Linked DNA regions of Homo sapiens. The protein of the gene in region 2 interacts with the protein of the main gene of each other region in a pairwise test. Each region holds a gene or a part of one and is shown on either strand. Other genes may lie near its edges. The genes, in order: SMIM24 and MEP1B.

The links.
Region 1: the proteins of MEP1B (region 2) and SMIM24 interact in a protein complementation assay, tested with the Homo sapiens proteins (one study listed by IntAct).

Annotation. Positions count from the first base shown.
Region 1 is NC_000019.10:3,478,332-3,482,241, reverse strand, and holds the start of SMIM24 (small integral membrane protein 24 precursor), read left to right. Parts: upstream 1-1,716; 5' UTR 1,717-1,778; coding exon 1,779-1,845; intron 1,846-3,312; coding exon 3,313-3,424; intron 3,425-3,763; coding exon 3,764-3,823; intron 3,824-3,910.
Region 2 is NC_000018.10:32,207,036-32,210,845, reverse strand, and holds part of MEP1B (meprin A subunit beta isoform 1 precursor), read right to left. Parts: intron 3,595-3,810; coding exon 3,376-3,594; intron 2,728-3,375; coding exon 2,575-2,727; intron 346-2,574; coding exon 130-345; intron 1-129. UniProt on the Homo sapiens protein: Membrane metallopeptidase that sheds many membrane-bound proteins. Exhibits a strong preference for acidic amino acids at the P1' position. Known substrates include: FGF19, VGFA, IL1B, IL18, procollagen I and III, E-cadherin, KLK7, gastrin, ADAM10, tenascin-C.

The DNA.
Region 1 (3,910 bases), on a different chromosome or scaffold from region 2:
TCTCTGGGGGGTGGTCCTGACTTCCTAATCAGATCGAGAGCTCCCAGACAGCACCAAGGCCTCCTTCTCTTCCAAGCCCTGCACAAGACGGGATACACAGTCAGAGTTTAATAGATGCCTGCCTGGCTGGTTCAAGCAGACCTGTGGCCATCCTGGGGCTGGGATGTGTGAGCCCCATCCTGCTGAGTGGCCGGTCTGCTCAGCGGTCATCCGCAGACCTCCGGAAGAGAGGAAGTGACAGCGACTCAGCAGGCGCTCCATAAACACCTGTGCGATGACGCCGGGCCTTCCTACCACTCGTCTGGGCCATGGCTGCTCCCGTGTCAGCTGGGGCGGGGTCCCCCTTCGCCCGGGCAGGGCCCACTATCTAATCAGCCGAGGGACCAAGGTTGAGGACAGGAGAGCCTGGAGCCTGAGTCATCAACGCTCCCGGGCATCCCCACGTGAGAGCGTCCCGGTTTGCAGGTGGACCACGGGCATGTGGCCTCTGCACACCTTCCCTGTCCCTGTGTGCTCCCATGGCTGCTTGTGGGTCCTCAGGGGCCAAGAGCCTGGGCGAGGCAGGATAAGCTGGGGGCGAGGCAGACCCGGCTTCAAATCCCAGGTCAGACCTGCTGCGTGACCTTGACTTTCCTGGGCACAATGAGACCGGCACCATTTCACGGGGTGTTAAGAAAAGGAAATGCGATCTGTGAAATTGCCGAGCACGGAGCCTCATGTGTACTCTGAGAGCACAAAAGGTGACTCTCAAATTTGCTTTGAGAGACAAGGTCTTGTTCTGTTGCCCAGGCTGGAGTGCGGTGGTGCATGCAGTGGTGCAGTCGTAGCTCGCTGCAGCCTCGAACTCCTGGGCTCAAGCGATCCTCTCACCTCAGTCTCTTTGAGTAGCTGAGACTACAGGTGCAGGCCACCATGCTCAGCTAAGTTTTACATTTTTTATTTTAGAGACGGGAGGAGGTTGGTCTGGAACTCCTGGCCTCAAGCGATTCTCCCGCCTTAGCCTCCCAGAGTGCTGGGATTACAGGCGTGAGACACTGTACCCAGCCTTGGTAACTCTTTGTATTTCTAATTTTTTTTATTTCCTTTGAGACAGGGTCTTCCTCTGTCACCCAGGCTGGAGTGCGGTGGTGCGGCCATAACTGGCTGCAGCCTCAAACTCCTGGGCTCAAGTGATCCTCCCACTTCAGCACACCCTAGTAGCTGGGCCTGCAGGTGCCCGCCGCGCCTGGCTAATTTTTCTATTTTTGTAGAGGTAGGGCTTGACTAAGTTGCCCAGGTTAGGCTCAAGGATCTGCCCGCGTTGGCCTCTCAATGTAGTGGGATTACAGGTGTGAGGCACTGGGTGGGCGCACCCTTCTTAAGATATTCCAGTTGTATTTGTGAGTTCCCCCTGTGTCCAGAGTGGCACGGGGCCTGGGCCGGGACGGGAGGTCGCAGCCATCTCAGCTCAGCCCCTGCAGCAGGGATCACAAAGGGGTGGCCCTGAGGCTGATGGTCCCCAGGGCAGGGTGCAGGGAGGAGGGACTCCCTCAGTTAATTGTTACACAGGTCCAGAGTCTGGCCTCCCGGAGGGAGAGCGATGGGGCAGGAGCTGGCAGGGGAGGGGCAGGATGCCCAATCAGGTGGTGCCAGGGGCGGGCCCCGCTCCCAGGTCTCAGGCATCCCCCGCCCGGGGACCGCCTGTGCCTTATCACGGGGAGGCAGGGCCTCGCCCACACCAAACCTGTGGACGCCGACCCGGGACCGCCGCTGGCTGGCTGCTGGCTCACTCGACCGTCATGGAGACCCTGGGGGCCCTTCTGGTGCTGGAGTTTCTGCTCCTCTCCCCGGTGGAGGCCCAGCAGGGTAGGTGCAGGGGGGCGGGAGGGGGCGTCGCGGGATAGGGGAGTTGGTCAGGTGATCACCATCTCCCAATTTTCCATGGCGAGAAAAAGGAGAGGGGGCAGGAAGAAAAGGAAGAGTGGCTTGGAGGCCCTTCTCAACCCCCGCAGTACCGCCCGGCCTCCCTCTCGCTGGGCTCTGCCCTCCTCTGTAAGGGACCCCCCACCGCCCACCCGAGCCTTTCCCCTCTCCAGCCCTTCTGAGCACACCTGGCTGAACCCCCCGCCTTGAGCTCGGCCCCACTCTGAGCTCGGGCCTCCTTTACAAGCCCCTCCCCATCTGAGTCCCCGCCTCTTTTGTGAACCGCTCCTTCTCACTCCTCCTCCTTTATAAACCCCTCCCCGAGCCCCTCCTCCTCTGTAAGCCCCTCCCCTCTGGGCTCCTCCTTCTTTATAAGCCCCTCCCCCTGAGCCTCTGCCTCCTCTATAAGCCCCTCTCCCTCTGAGCCCCCTAGTTCACAAGCCTCTCCCCATCCGAGCCCCTTCCTCCTTTGTAAGCACCTCCTTCTCACTCTCCCTCCTTTATAAACCCCTCCCCGAGTCCCTCCTCCTCTGTAAGCCCCTCCCCTCTGAGCTCCTCCTTCTTTATAAGCCCCTCCCCCTGAGCCTCTGCCTCCTCTACAAGCCCCTCCCACTCTGAGCCCCCTAGTTCACAAGCCCCTCCCCATCTGAGCCTCTTCCTCCTCTGTAAGCCCCTCCTTCTCACTCATCCTTTATAGACCCCTCCCTGAGCCCCTCGTCTGTTGTAAGCCCCTCCCCTCTGAGCTCCTCCTTCTTTATAAGCCCCTCCTCCTGAGCCTCTGCCGCCTTTATAAGCCCCTCCCACTCTGAGACCCTCTCCCCTTATAAGCACCTCCCCTCTGAGCTCCTCCTTTATAAGCCCCTCCCTCTAAGCCTCTGCCTCCTTTTATAAGCTCCCCCCAACAGCTCCTCTGTTGTAAGCCCCAACCCCCCAGACTCTTCTTTATAAGCCCTCCCCATCTGAGCCACCTCCTCCTTCATAAGCCCCTCCCCTGAGCTTGTTCTCCTTTATAAACCCCACCCCTGAGCCACTCCTTTGTCATAAGCCCCGCCCTTCTGAGGTCCGCCTTTATAAGCCCCTCCCCCTGAGCCTCTGCCTGCATTATAAGCCCCGCCCCTTCTGAGCCCTCCTGATTTGTAAACTCCGTCCCCTCTAAGCCCCCCTTCTTTTATAAGCCCCTCCCCTCTCTGGGCCCCCAGGCTCCCTCCCACTCTGGTAAGGTACCCTCCCCCTCTCTAAACCCTCCCGACCCCCCTACGCCATCCAGGTCTCTGAAGCTCCGTCCCTTTCCAATACCCCCTCTGTCGGAGCACCCCCAGTGACCTTCTCTCTCTCCTTGCTAGGGTGGTGGGGGAAGGGGGTCTTCTGACCTTTTCTTCCTCTGAGTCGAACCTCCCCAACTTCCTGCAGCCACGGAGCATCGCCTGAAGCCGTGGCTGGTGGGCCTGGCTGCGGTAGTCGGCTTCCTGTTCATCGTCTATTTGGTCTTGCTGGCCAACCGCCTCTGGTGTTCCAAGGCCAGGTGGGTGCCCGCCCCCACCCCGCTGCCCCCACAGCCCTGCCCCCACCCCCAGCTTCCCAACCCTCTCTGGTACCCCCATCACCAGCCTCAAAGTCCGAAGGTCTCCCATTTCCCTGCTGCTCCTCCAACCTCTACTCTCAGAGCCCAGATCCCGGGCTTGCACCCGCCCGTCTCCCCAAGACAACGAGCCAGGCAGCCCAGCCCTTCCTTGCGTCCTGGGGTTCATGAGCCCCGGCTGGGAGGTTGGGACAGAGGCTGAGGCTGTCACACCGCTTCCTTCCCTTTACCGCCCCCTTTCTCCTCTCCCGCCCCCTTCCACCTTTCCCTTTATCTCTGCAGGGCTGAGGACGAGGAGGAGACCACGTTCAGAATGGAGTCCAACCTATACCAGGACCAGAGGTACTATGCGTGCGGATGCTGGGGGTCTGTGTGAACCCCTCCTCGGGGTGGGGGAATGGGTGTGCGCAGATGACCTTGCTGTCCTGA
Region 2 (3,810 bases):
AATCTAGTTCTTAGTTGAAGTATAGTGACTCAGTAGCCCCTGCCCTATTGTAAATTGTTGCATTAACTAAAGAAAAGACCTAAGATTGCCTCATTTTAAATCCAGACAATAAGGATGTTGACATTGTACCTTTTATTTCTTCCACAAGGGTTAAATTGCCATCCACATTGTCTGCAGAATACTCCCTGATATAGATGTTCAGTTGATCACTTTCACTGCCACTGTTATATAAGTAAAATTGCAGGCACTGAAATCCTCTTTTAGGGTACAGCGTTCTACTTTCCAGCACTGCTGTGGCCCCCACATTTACAGAGCTGCTATCGAAATGCATGAAGAAACCAGAACCTGTTAAAGAAAAGCAGAATTGAGAGAAAAACAGATACTGGGTATAGGAATGTGTGTTTGTTAATGGTGGTGCTAGATTCTTTACGCGAGGCATAAGTAACATCCATATATAAATCGCCAGGGAGAAATGACAGAAGCCTAAGCTACATATCTGGCACTTGCAAAAGCTAGCAGATTGACATAACAGTATAAAACTCAAACCTCTCTATTATTTATAAAACGTTTACTTACAATAGTAGTTTTCCGTGGGCACTAATCCTTGCTTATCTTCATTTGTTATGAGCTATAAAGATAAAGCAAGTTTAAGTATCAAATGCTAACTTTTTAAAAATCCACTGTAAGGCTGCAGGTCAAGCCCAAACAGCAGGGCTAAAAGGTAGATTCTACATGGGACACCTTTCAAGTGTCCAAAACCCTGGTCCAGCTCCAAGTGGAAAGAGCTACCATTGGACAAAGATGCTACAGAGGGTTGTTCCCCCGCTGAGAATATGAAAAAGGAAAATGGAAATTAAGTCAAAACGAGGGTTTGAAACTTGGGTGGGTAGAGAGTTGTAGCATCTGTGTCTCCCAAGGGTAATTCAACGTGAACTTCTAGGTCTTTCTGGAAAGGTGAACACACACTGCGGACAGAGGTGAGAGTCCAGCCAGGAAACCAGGGCCTTGGCTGACCTGCCCGCCCCCCTTTTTTTTTTAAACACTTTCTAACTTCTTTGGCTTCAAACTGTCACAAAAAAAGAAGGAAGAAAAAAAGAAAAGGAAGAAAGAAATTCAACTTTCAGAAGATATTGTTAACTACAGCAACCATCTGGGGAGATTCACATTTTAATATTTTTAAAATGATACTTGTAATGAAAAAATTGAGAATAACTGAACCTGATAATTTCAGAGGCACCTCCCACTTATCTGCTTTCATTATCTGCAATACTTAACCTTCTAAGCCATCTCTAAAGAAGGCACAGCTAGTAATTCTGGTTTGAGTGTATATATATTTTCTTTCATTTTTTTTTTTTTTTTGAGACAACGTCTTACTCTGTTGTCCAGGCTGATACGCAATGGTATGATCTCAGCTCACTACAACCTCTGCCCCCCGGGTTCAAGTGATTCTCCTGCCTCAGTCACCCAACTAGCTGGGACTACAGACATGCACCACCACACCCAGCTAATTTTTGCATTTTTAGTAGAGACAGGGTTTCACCATGTTGGCCCAGCTGGTCTCAAACTCCCAACCTCAGGTAATCCGCCCACCTTGGCCTCCCAAAGGCCGGGGATTACAGGCATGAGCCACTGCACCCGGCCCAATTTTCTTTACCTTATTTCAAGTATTCGCTTAGTTTCCACTATATGCAGGGAATTGTGTTGGGCATTTAAATATGGTTCTAGGAGCAGGCGATTTATGAAAGAGACAACATTAGGGAACCTTTCCCTTACCACAGAAATTAGTTTTCAAAAACAGAAAAAAGTGAGAGCTACCTGGTCTGGATTCTTCTTCTTTTCCCCCTCCCTCCCTATCTACTTTCCTCTGGTCTGAGTAGGACCACTATCCACTATCCAAATATGCATTTAAAAAGAAAAATAAAAGGAAAAGCACCTTTTTGCCATTAGAGGCCTCCAATTCCTGCCTAGATCATCTGAGCTATTAAGCACTGGCCCTAAGTTCTGAAGTCTAGTTTTACATATTTGATGCCAGAATAAGCAAATACGTAAAAATTTGGTCCTTGTAGCCAAATAACTACTTAAGGCAAAACAAAATGAAAATGGAAAAGGATACGCATCTGAAGAAAATTAAATAAACTCTGCTTTTTAGATATTTTTGTAACAGGAGCATATAATCACATCCAGCTACAGTTCTGAAACAATAATTCGCAGCCTAGTGCTGTCCATTGGAAAGAGTCTCTTGTATTCTGCAAACTTCTAGGAAACAATAGTACTGCCCCTGAGATAAGAGGCCTTGCAGGAGGCCCAGTCTGGTACACTCTCCTATGGGAACGCACTGGTAGAGGCATCACAGAGCCCAGCTCTGACTTGTAGAAAGAAAAATAAACTCAGGAAGGAAAAGCAAAGAAATTAACAATGTCTTTATCAGGTGCAAGGCCTACTTCTCAGTAGTAACCTAATGAATAATCATTAATAATTCTGATAGAAATTAGAGATAAAATCCCATTCTTTCATAGAGAAGTATGTGGCTGTAGCCACTGAGTATACAGTCTAGGAATATCTCACTCCTGTTACCTTGGCACTGGCCCATGTTGGAGTGATCACTCTCTGGCCCCCTGGGAACCTGTGAAACCCGTTGCCAGTCAGCATTATCTCCTGAACTTTGGATCATGCCACACACATTTTCCAGTTCAAAACTGCACGAGTCCATAAAACTCAAGGAAGAGGCTACAAAAAGCAAAAAACAATTATTGACACTCATACAACATGATAATCTAAGTAACAAAAACTGAACTTATCACAGTATTAGAAATGCCAGGTTGGTATTACAGGGAACACCTAGCTGATTCTGGATGATGGTGGCTTAAAGATCCCTCTTTATTTGCAGAACCCCTACAAAGAAGGTAATGAATTCTGTAGATCTGAATAAGCTCCCTGCCTGAAGTCTTTTTTAAAAAAAATTTTCTAATTTGTAGAAACCTGAGTCTATACTCCCCTAGTTATTCGAATCATTAAGCCACAATCCAGATTATTTGATCCCATTCATATTACAACTAGACATATCATTTTGGCTAAAAGGAAGTGTGAGTATCAATCTGACCGAGGTTTGAATTAGTAACAGCTTTAAAAACTTGCCTGAGGCATATTCCTACAGGACCCAATTTGTTTTTAGATCTCAACACCAGACGTGGTGAAAAGAAAAATGCTGCTTCCAAGTTGTAGATTGAGATCTGAGTGCTATTCTGTTTATTTCCTGAATATCAAATCTCTATAATCGCAGAAACCCCACCAATGCTTGACAAAATGGCACAGACCATCATTTTTTCCTACATAACAGCGGAAAATATAAGTCATTTCAAAGAACCTGTCACATACAGCAGTTATACAGTTGATTCAACTTTAGGAGATCAGAGTCACTGAAATCCATTCGTTGGCCGATCACATCCTCAAAGTCTGAGATTCTTGTGACAATTGTCGGCTCTGTTCCATTTTGGAATGCAGTTTTACTGTAGTGCATTACTGAAGTGTAATCATAGGGAACATTCAGGGAATCTGATATATCGTCACTATAGGTGTTAAAATTGTGCTCTCTGCCTAAAGGATAAATAAAAAATCTTTACTTGATGTTCACAAAATTCAGCTTATCTTACTCCAAATACTGCTCACTTAGAAATGGAGAATATAATAAACTCAAGCAATTTTTGCTACAACTAACAACAGTTTCATTATTCCCATCTTACAATATAATATTCAAGCTTAGAACTGTGATACCAGCAGTCACACTGAACATATCTAAGGTTCTATTGCAGC